2 separate regions of the Homo sapiens genome follow, and region 2 is linked to region 1. Evidence: fine-mapped expression QTL. A gene starts in region 1. The other region holds a variant in brackets. All regions are shown on one strand. Distances are between the middles of the regions. Region 1 holds the start of STRBP (spermatid perinuclear RNA binding protein). Region 2 has its middle 27 kb from the start of CRB2.

Region 1 (5,367 bases):
TTACTTAAAATTTGGTGTTCTGCTCCGCCCTCATTATGTTTAGGCAAGATTCCCACTTCCACTCAAACTTATTATTCGAACATACAATGGCTGCATTAAGATACTTCCTAAATCGACAAAAGAAGAAAACTAATCAACCCAGAAAGCTCCCAAGCTACCAAAGCGAACCTTTTATTTGAAATCATACTAGGTACCACACTACACATTACGTGAAGCCCACAGAGTGATAATTGAAGTTATTTCTGCAACATGATGAAATTTATTTCTTAGCAAAATCTGACAAGACTTAATTTTCAACTGTCAAAAGGGAAATCGTTTTCCAAGATTCTAGGAAACCTTGCTTACTGAAGCAGTCTCAAAGTAGTTTGCTTAATCCTTTCAAACCCCTAAGAATCTAACACAAGCCACAGAACAGTGAATGAGACTTGCACTGAAATAAATGTCTGTGTTCAAACCCCTAAAGGTTACTTCCCATGTGTTTGGCAAGCTGAAGGCCATATGTCCGCCCAACCCATAAGTGTCTTTCCTCAATAAAGCTAACATTACACTTCCCAACTCAAATCAAAATACCAGAGAATCCAAAAGCCTCCAACTAAATTTTACCTGAACCATTTGGGAGAAAAAGTCAACAATCCAGATCAGTTATTCACGCCTTGAAAGAGTGTTAAGAGTCAGAAAGCTCCAATTCTGCCACTTTTAGGAGCTAGGTGTACATTACTTCTGTCTGCCTATAGCATGGGACTCAGATATTACATCACCCCATGCTGCCTGAATACTGACCCATTACCCAGAAAGCACCAGGGTATCTGAGACACTGCACCAAGGTATCCCTTTCTTCCTCTCTTATGCATAGCCCTTGAATGCTACTGGCCACTGGGCCTGGTCTCTTCCAGTTTCACAAAGACATCTGCCCTGCACCTGCTGCAATCCCATTTCCATTCACTCTTGGTGCGCTCCTCGTGACCCTGTGTGGCCCTTCTGTCCACTCGTCAAACCAATATGCTAGGATGATACCCACTACACACCTCTCCCAAATTTGGGGATGTGCACTCAGCTCTCCCTTACCCCTTCCCCCTTCCTCATTTACTGGGTTCTGGAATTAAAAGCAGGCTCAACGATCTCTCTGACCCTAGGAGTATGAACTTTCAGATATGACACTGAGTTTAATGTCCTCCACTTTCCATTAACATCATTCCAGGATCCAGGTCCCCCCACCCCTCAATCTCCAGTTTCTCTCAGTATGGAATTTAATCCTCTCCATTTAGTTATTTTTCCAACTTCTGCACTCTGCCTGATCTTCCTTAGACTCTCAGTGACCTAAAAATCTTGGCCCCTTTCATCTCTCAAACTCAAAGTGTTCCAATCTCTCCCCATACTTCCACTCCTTGGATCTTCCATACTCTCTTAAGCAACCTGTGTTCCTAGCTCTCTCCAACTTAAGCAGTCATTTCCTGCCCTAAACCTGGGCATCCTATTTCCCCCACCACCACCACCACCACTCCAATCCATCACCTATGCCTTTCTAGTTACAGACATGTCCACATACACCTCTGCCTTGCCCTTCCCTTACTCCACTATAGGTATTAAGCATTCTTCTACATCCTCTACCCCAAAATAGCCTGTCTACCTTCCTTCTTTCTCCCTACCTCCCTTCTCCCTACAGCACAAAATTCAGTGCCCCAAACCTGTGCTTCCCTCCCTCCACCTACTGTACTCCAGACCTGTCCACCTTCCCCTCCAGTCTATCCCGTTGTCCCCCTCTACTGATTTCGTTCTCACCCTCCCCTCCACCTTCCTCCTCCCCAACCGCTCCACACTTCCCGCCTCAGAAATCTTTCCTTCCATTTGTCCCCACACTTTACCTGCCACTCCAAGAACACTTCCCTTTCCCCACCCCCTTTTGCCCTCCACCTCACACACTCCACGCCACCCCACACCTGTCCCTCTCCCCCAGCTCCTGCCCCTAACGTCCTCCAACACTTGCCAAGAACCCCTCACCCTCCGTCCTACCTCAAAATTCCCTCTCTTGCTGATCCCACCTTCTTCCATACTTCCTGCATAAACACCCTCCATTTCACGCACTTCTCCCGCTATCCTTTAAATGCCCCACACACCTCCTGCTCTCCATCCCCATCACCCTTCTCCTACTGTCCCCACCTCTCTCTGCAAGCCCTCAAACTAAGTCTCTGCCCCAATGAACTTCCCCCTTCCACCCCATACTCCTCTTCCCTGAGCACCAGATACCTGCCTTTTTATCCTTACATGTCAACCCCCTCCCGCCTCCCTGCAGGCTCCCCTATACACCTGGCCACACACTCCCTCACACCCCTCGCAGGTCTCCTGGAGCCCCTGGGCCTACCCTTCATTTCCCTATCACCCCAGAAGCCTAGGCACCCTGCTCCCCTCCCTCCCTTTCAGGCGCTCCCTGCCTGCCCTCACTTCCCCCTGCCCCGACCCCCTCCTCCATCGTTCCCCTTCACGGGCGTCCCGGTGGCCTTCCTAATACCCGCCCCACTCCCTGCCCCTGGCACGCAGCGCTCCTTCCAGTCCTGCTCGAGTCCCCAGTCTTCTCCCTCCATTCCCACCCCACTCGTCCCTGCCCTCCCCAAAAGCCCCCTCATTCCCTCTTGAACCCCACAATATAGTGCCCCCCCCCACCGGACGGAATGTCCTCCATCTCGCACTCGCCTGGCCCAGGGGGCCCCCCAAACCTGCCTGAAGGCTCTCCTCCTCCATTGGGCCGGATCCCTCTGCACCCCTATTTACCCCCAAATCTGCCCACACCTTCCGCCTGCCCCCCGAAGCCTCTCCCCAGCTCCTGCCCCCAATGTCCTCCAACACCTGCCCCGAGCCCCGAGCCCTCCGTCCCGGAAGACCTCCCGGCACCGCGTCCCCCAACCCTGCCCACGCCCTCCCCTGATCGGCCGGGACCCCGTCCCCGCGAAGGTGAGGAAGGCTGCCCGCTGCCCTTGCCCGAAGCGGCCGGGGCACCGCAGCGGCGGCGGCGGCGGCCACAATGCCGGAGCCGCGGGGCCGGGATTGCTCCCTGCTCTCCGCCTCGGCCGCCACCGCCGCCGCCGCTGCTAAGGACGCACAACAAACAATGCGGGGCCCGGGCCGGCTCCGCCAACCGCCTCAACCGCCGCCTTAACCGCCGCCCGCCCGGGACGGCCCGCCGCGCAGGCGCCCGCCCCGCCGCCGGAGCCTACCCGCGCCGCCGCGCTCTGCCCGCGCCCGGTACCCGCTCCCGCTCCGCCGCCGCCGCCACCTCGCCCGCTCGCGTCTCCGGCTCCTCTGCCCAGCGGCGGCGGCTGCGGCGGCTGCTGCCCTGGTGGCGCTCGCGGCTCCGGTCTCCGCTTCGGCGGCGGCAGCGGCGGCAGCGAGCACGTGACACCGTCGAGCGCGCCCATTGGCCAGGCCAGGGGGCGGGCCCCGCGGCTGCTGGGGAACGGAAAGCCCGCCCCCTCGTTCGCCGCGCGCCCCCTCCACGCGCGTCCTGCCGCACCTGAGAGCGCCGGCCAGCGCCCGCCGCCGCCTTGCTGTGCCGCCGCCTGCGCCAAGTGCGCACCTGGGAGCGCGCAGGGAGCACTCGCCGCCGGCGGCCTTATGCACCTGCCAGCGGACGCTTACGTAAACTGCGTCCCCGCCTTCCTCCCGGCCCCAGGCCCCCGCTCGCTGCAGCACCTGAGCCCCGCTGCGCTAGCGGCGTAACTGCGGCGGAGCGGAGACGAGCTGCGCTGGGAGGCTAGCGAAATGCACGGAAACTTCGTAACTTCCGAACCTGGGAGCTGCGCCGAGCCGCGGCGGCTAGCCGCCTTCCCCGGGCCCCGCACCCCAGTGCGGGATGCCCCCCAACCCCAGCAGCCACACAAATGGAGTAGGCGTCGCACTGCCTCCCGAGGTAGAGGGGCAGGCCAGTAGGCTTTGACTTGTGCCACCGCCCACCTACTTGCTGGCTGTGTGACCTTGGCCAAGTTACCAAGAACCGTTCTGAGCCTCAGTTTCCTCATCAGGAAAACTGGGACAATAATTCCAATTTAGGAGCTGTTGGGGAGATGGCATAAGACAATAGGTGTGAATCCTGGCACACAGCAGTCGCTGAACAGAAGCTGCTACAATCACCTCTCCTTCACCTGCCTATAATGAACCTCGCTGGGATTGAGTTTGGGCCCAGGACCTCTCTGACCTCCTTATGGTTGGGTCAGACTTTGGCTGAACACCTACCAGCTCTGTGCCAGGGGCGGCGCTGGGGAAGAATTAAAGGTTCGCTTTCTATTCTACAGTCCCTGGCCTCAAGTTCTTGGTGCCCAGCATTCTGCTTGCCAGTATACAGTCCCTGCTGTATACCGGGGGGTTTGCAGGCTGCAGGGATGCACTGGCAAATGAGACAATGTCTTTGCCCTAAGACAATTCCCAGCCTGGAGCAGAAACGACCTGACCACTCAGTGCCAAGACAGAGGACCTTGAACAGCCCAGGGGTTGAGGAGGGACTCCCCACAACAGCCCCCTTGGGGCCCCTTTTCATCTTTCTAACACACCAGGCTCAAATATTTTAACAGCTCTGTTTCATTCACAGAATAAAGTGTAAAAAACCCAATTTCAACTGAAAAGGCCTTGGTGATCTGGCCTTAAGCTTCAAGGTGCACGCCCTTCCCTTTGCCCCTCCTTCAGGCCAATGTGACCCTCCAGCCACACAGAACTACAGTACTGTTGTTTCCAGAGTATGCCCAGGTGTGTAGGAGCCTGAGTCTCCTGAGACAGATGCCAGGCCGCAAATCCCTTTCTAAACCCTCTCCCCACCTCTGACCACTCACACCTTCCTTGACCCTCCTGAAAAAAATCCTGGGTATCCTTATCAATCAGCTCAGAGTATATTCTCTGGAGATCCTTGGCTGCCTCAGACACATGGTCTAAGCTCCCTCGGCTTGAACATAGTCCTGTTAAGCTATATGTATTCTCATGGCACTAGATTGTAATTGTTTAGCTGTCTGTCTCCTCCCTGGTCTCTCAGTCCCTTGAGGACAGGGTCATCTTCCTGCCTAAGTGTGTTAGGGAAGACTACACGTGCACATGACATGAGATCATTAAAGCTGGGTTTTGTAGGATGCCCATAAGTATCAGAGGGAGAAGAGGCGCCACACTGTAAAGATCCAGATTCACTGCACACTAGCTGTGTGATCTTGGAAAATCAATCTCTCTAGTCTAAGTTTACTCATCTGCCAAGTGAGACTAATAGTATTGCATATTGTAGGGTTGTTAGAAGGATTCATTGCAACCGTATATCTAAGGCACTCAGCACGGTGTCCAGCACTTGGTTACATTTTTAATTTTTTTAAAATAGAAGAACAGCATGGCATTAAGGATTCA
Region 2 (5,367 bases), 61 kb after region 1:
CAGATGTTAGCTGTACACCTACTATGTGTCTGGCTCTGTGCAGACTCTGCGATTCAGCAGAACAAGACAGGCAGTGGCAAACTCCATCTCTAACTGGGGCAAGAAGAGGGGAAATTAAGGAGGCAATAAATAACCATACTGCCAGGAGGGCAGGGCCACGGCCAGACCCCGGACGGATGGACGGACTGCGAATGCAGCCAGCTCCCTCCCCTCCCCACTCTCCTCTCTCCTCCCCACCTCTCCTCTCCCTGTCAGCATCAGCGTCCTTCTGCTACTCATTTGGCTTCCCCTACTTTGTGGAAAACAAGAGAGCTCTCAGCTCCAAAGGCCTCACCGGGGAGAGTATAACTGTTTCCCCCCAAGTTCCAGTTTAAAATGAAACCAAAAACAACTGCGGGGAAGGACCTGGTTGGCCTGGCTTGGGCCAGCAGCCCACTCCTTCTGAGCCAGTAGCTATGGCTGGAGGGTGAGGTCATGTGCCAGCTCCTGTAACATGAGGTCATATGGCAACATGAGGTCACGTGACAACTGCAGGGCCCACCTGCCTAGACAGGGTGGGGAGAGGAGCTGGTCTCAAAAAGGAGGAAGTGCTTTTGAGAAGGAATGGTGTGGGGAGGGTGGGTTGGCCCTCAAACCAGTAGGGATCTCACAAGGCCAGCGGGGTGCTTGTTGTGGAGCCTTTGGGAGGCTGCAGTCCCAAGCGATCCTTACCTTTTTGGTGCCCTCGACCCCTTTGGCATCGAGTGAAGCCTGTGGACCCTTTCTCAGGATTTTTTGTTTGTTTGTTTGTTTTGTTTTTGAGACAGAGTTTTGCTCTTGCTGCCCAGGCTGGAGTGCAGTAGCACGATCTTAGCTCACTGCAATCTCTGCCTCCCAGGTTCAAGCAATTCTCCTGCCTCAGCCTCCTGAGTAGCTGGGATTACAGGCAAGCACCACCATGCCCAGCTAATTTTTGTGTTTTTAGTAGAGACTGGGTTTCGCCATGTTGGCCAGTCTGGTCTTGAGTTCCTGACCTCAGGTGATCCACCTGCCTTGGCCTCCCAAAGTGCTGGGATTATAGGCATGAGCCACCACACCAAGCCTCTCAGGATCATATTTTCAAATGCATCAAATAAAATATCTAGCATCGCAGAGTAAACCAATTACATTGGTTCTGTCCACAGCCCCCTTGAGGACTCAATATTGAAGGAGTGTGAAAAGACAGGTTAATTAGAGATTTGCTCAGACATCTCCTGGAGGAAGGTGGTGGGAGCCGTGGCCTTTCCCTTGAGGGTGGAAGTTGGTGGACCCGTCTGGGTCTGGGGTGGCCCTGGGGAAGCTGGTAGTGAAGGGAAATGGGAGTGGGTTGACTGCTAAGACAAAGGTGACACCAGTCAGGGAGCTTGGCTGCTGGTGGCAAGCACAGACTCCAGCTAACCTGAAGGAGTGGTTTGTAAAAGTATCGGACTCCAGCTAACCTGAAGGAGTGGTTTGTAAAAGTATCGGGTAGCTCATGCAATTGACGGAGAAACTAGAGAAACAGGCTTGACGAGAACCCAGAGAGTTAAGATCTGCCAAGCTGCCACCTGGGAGCTGACTGCCGGCCAGCTGGTCACTGTGGCCCCATCTGACACCTCCAGCCATGGAGATGACGCCCACACAGCACGAGATGTCCTTCTATGGCGGCACCCTTTAAATGGCAGACTGACTCTGTGCCTCAATGTCACTCTACAGAGTCCTGGGAGGGCATGTCCAGCTGGCCACACTCTAGGCTGCACGTCCATATTCTAGTCACTGGAAGCACAGAAGATCTGTCCCAGGCAGCTTCTGTGGGGAGAGGCGGGGGGGGGTCCTTCCACTATCTTGGGATTCTCCTAATAGATGCTGGTCAACCAAAGGGGTGAATGTCTGATGGCTGGTTCTGAGGTGTGTGTGTATGTATACACAGAGAATATGTGTGTATGTGTACATCGGGCCATGTGTCATGGCTCACGCCTATAATCCAAGCCAGGAGTTCAAGACCAGCCTGGGCAATATGGTGAAATCCCATTTCTACTAAAAATACAAAAATTAGGTGTGGTGGTACATGCTTGTAATCCCAGCTACTTGGGTGCTGAGGCATGAGAATTGCTTGAACCTGGGAGGTGGAGGTTGCAGTGAGCCAAGATTGTGCCACTGCACTCCAGCCAGCCTGGGGGACAGAGTGAGAATGTCTTTAAAAAAAAAAAAAAAAAAAAGCGTACGTGAACTAAGCTATGTCCCCTCTTAAGTGCTGTTTTGTTGGGATTTCAGGCCTGTGGCATTATCTAATGACGTGAAACTCAGGATA[C/G]AGGCTCCTAACTTTCCCCTCAAAAAGGAAATACTGCTGGGCTTGAGACAGAGAATAGGATGAATAGGACCTTTCAGGAAATAAACCAGACCTTCCAGCTTCTTCTCTGCAATCTTTTAGAAACCAGGACTGCTGGCTGGGCGTGGTGGCTCATGCCTGTAATCCCAACACTTTGGGAGGCTGAGGTGGACAGATCAGGAGGTCAGGAGTTCAAGACCAGCCTGGCCAACTTGGTGAAACCCCATCTCTACTAAAAATACAAAATTAGCCAGGCGTGGTGGTGGGTGCCTGTAATCCCAGCTACTCGGGAGGCTGAGGCAAGAGAATAGCTTGAACCCAGGAGGCAGAGGTTGCAGTGAGCAGAGATTGCACCACTGCACTCTAGCCTGGGTGACAGTGCGAGACTCTGTCTGAAAGAAAACAAACAAACAAAAAAAAACCAGGACTGCTGACTTCTTTTGGACTGACTTAGGAAGGACACTGGGAGTCTTGAACTTACCCTGGCATGGGACTTCTCTCTTGTGAGAAGTAAATGGACTTCTGGTGATCAATGGGACGAGGGTGCAAAAAGATGGTCCTTATTCTGAACCTCAAGCTGGGGACATGGGACATAAGTGACCTGTGTTTGCTGTTGCTCCCCCATCCCCATCTCACAACACTGGACTGTGAGCTCTGGCAGGGCAGGTCTGCTGTCTCATTCCTCTGCTCATGCATCTTCCAGCCCAGGCACCAAGACCTGGACAGTTGTTCACCAGCCTTTCTCTTCCTCCTGGGCACAGAGCCAGGTGACACCTCCCGGCTTCCCTGTGGTTAGGCATGACATGTGACTGAGCCTTGACTAGTGGGACATGGACGGAAGTGACATGGGCCACTTCTGGCCTGGACCATAAAAACCTTCAATGTGTAATCCTCCAAATTCTTCCCTCATCCAGACGAAAGCAGATGATTCTGAGTTCTAGGAAAAGGTGTCACCACAATAAGGAGGGAGGCTGGGTCCCTGAATCACGTAGTGGAAGGCTCATTGACCAACCAGGAACTCTGTCCTGTGAGCAAGAAAAGTCTATTGTGTTACTGGGGTGGGGGTGTTTATTAGAGCAGCTAAGGTGATACTAATACGCTCAGAAAATAGTTGCTGAACCGAGTTGTTCTGTGATCCTGGATAAAGCACTGCCCTGTCTGGGCCTCAGTTTCCTCAACTATATGAGAAGGCTGGACCAGGTAATCCCTAGGCACCCTTGCTCCTGGGAAAAAGGAGGACTTTAGCTACACACACACACACACACACACACACACACACACACACACACACGCACTCACACTCACCCTGTCACGCACACTCCTGCAGTGGGGCTGTTTCCATAGGGACAGGTCCTGAAATGCCTTTCTGGATACAATTTCTCACGAGCACCCAAACAAGGACAACGTTCCAGAACCTTGTTTCTAACAAATGTCGGTAAAACAAAAACACCCGCTACAGACCCATAAAATGTGAAGACCAACTCCAGTGATAAAATATGTTCGTTTCTATGTATTTTTATAGCTTTCCGGATAATAAAAGGAACCGTGTTCTAATCGGATGCGTTTGTTAAATCAGTGTGCAGTGCCTCTACCCTCCTCTTCATGCACAGAGAGAGCTGCAGGGAGACAGGAAGTAGCAGCTTTTGTCATTACCTTGGGAACCTTTGGGACCAAAGGCCATCCTTATTGCTGTTTTCCCAACTCCTCCAGGAATGGTGGGAAGCAGCGTGCATCAGGGAAGGTAGGAACAGCAGAAGTTGTCAAAGATGCTTCTTCCCTAGCTTCTAGGACAGTTTCTCTTTTTATTCTCATGGGGAGAGAGGTACCAGGGTTGCTGCAGAGATGGGCTGGGGCTTGGTCAGGTAGGCTCTGGGATCACGACGGGGGTTCACACATACGTGCCAGGCACTGTTCTAAATGCTTTGGATATATAATACTAACGTTAAAAAAATAACTTCAGCTTTTATTTTAGATACAGTAGGTACATGTGCAGGTTTGTTACATGGGTATATTGACTAGTCTAAACTTCATGATAACCTTTGTGTAGGCCCTCATTTTACAGAGAGGGAAACTGAGGCATAAGGAGGTTGACAACTTGGCCAAGGTCACACAGCCAGTGAGTAGAGAAGTTGGTATTCCCACGCAGCCAGCTTTGTCTCCAGATCTGCCTCTCTAGGCTAAGGCTAAGGGTTTTTGTTTGTTTGTTTGTTTGTTTTTTTGAGACAGAGTCTCACTCTGTCACCAAGGCTGGAGTGCAGTGGTGCAATCTCTGTTGCAGAGACCACAATCTCTGTCTCCTGGGTTCAAGTGATTCTCATGTCTCAATCTCCTAAGTAGCTAGGATTACAGGCACATGCCACCACGCCCAGCTAATTTTTAAAATATTTTTAGTAGAGATGGGGTTTCTCTATGTTGGGCAGACTCCGGACGTCAGGTGATCTGCCCACCTCAGCCTCCCAAAGTGTTGGGATTACAGGTGTGAGCCACCATGCCTGGCCTAAGAGAAGGGTTTTAATCCATATCCTAAAAGCAGAGGAAGAGAGCAGCAAAGTGAACACAGACTGTATACTGTGGTCTGTGATTCTGCCCCACAGGTGACATTGGGCGACATCTTGAGACATGTTTGGTTGTCACAAGTGGGGATGAGGTGCTACTGGCATCTGGTACATAGAGGCCAGGGATGCTACAAAACACCCTGCACTGCACACAACAGTTCCCAACACAAAGAATGCTCCAGCCCCAAATGTCAATAACCCAAGACTGAGAAACCCTGCTCAGAGGTCAGACGGGCTGCAGCCTCTGCCACTCTCCAGCTGTGTGGCCCTGGGCAACTGACTTCCCCTCTCTGAACCTCAATGACTTTAGGAGAACTTTGGGTAAGGCAATCATGAGACAAAGCCTGACACATAGGAAGTACCCAATAAATAACAACAATGACTGTTTTCCTCTGATTCTCCCCTGACCGTCGCCATCTCTCACCCTGCCCCAGGCCCTGCCACATTTCTTGACCAAAAAACAGAACCAAGCTCTTAACAGTGAAC

What was found. PIP is the estimated chance that this variant, and not a neighbour inherited with it, causes the effect.
Region 2: its variant is the best candidate, but not a certain one, in a credible set for the expression of STRBP in monocytes (Quach 2016, PIP 0.86).

Annotation. Positions count from the first base shown.
Region 1 is chr9:123,265,227-123,270,593 of GRCh38, forward strand. STRBP (spermatid perinuclear RNA binding protein) reads right to left here and starts at 3,360. Exons shown (of 19, transcript NM_018387.5): 1 at 3,210-3,360. RefSeq lists silencers at 3,086-3,135, 3,306-3,785 and an enhancer at 3,186-3,686.
Region 2 is chr9:123,326,368-123,331,734 of GRCh38, forward strand. No RefSeq gene overlaps it. Among named protein-coding and RNA genes, the nearest start is that of CRB2, 27 kb to the right of the region's middle. RefSeq lists enhancers at 1-392, 393-892. The variant C/G (reference allele first, on the strand shown) is at 2,309.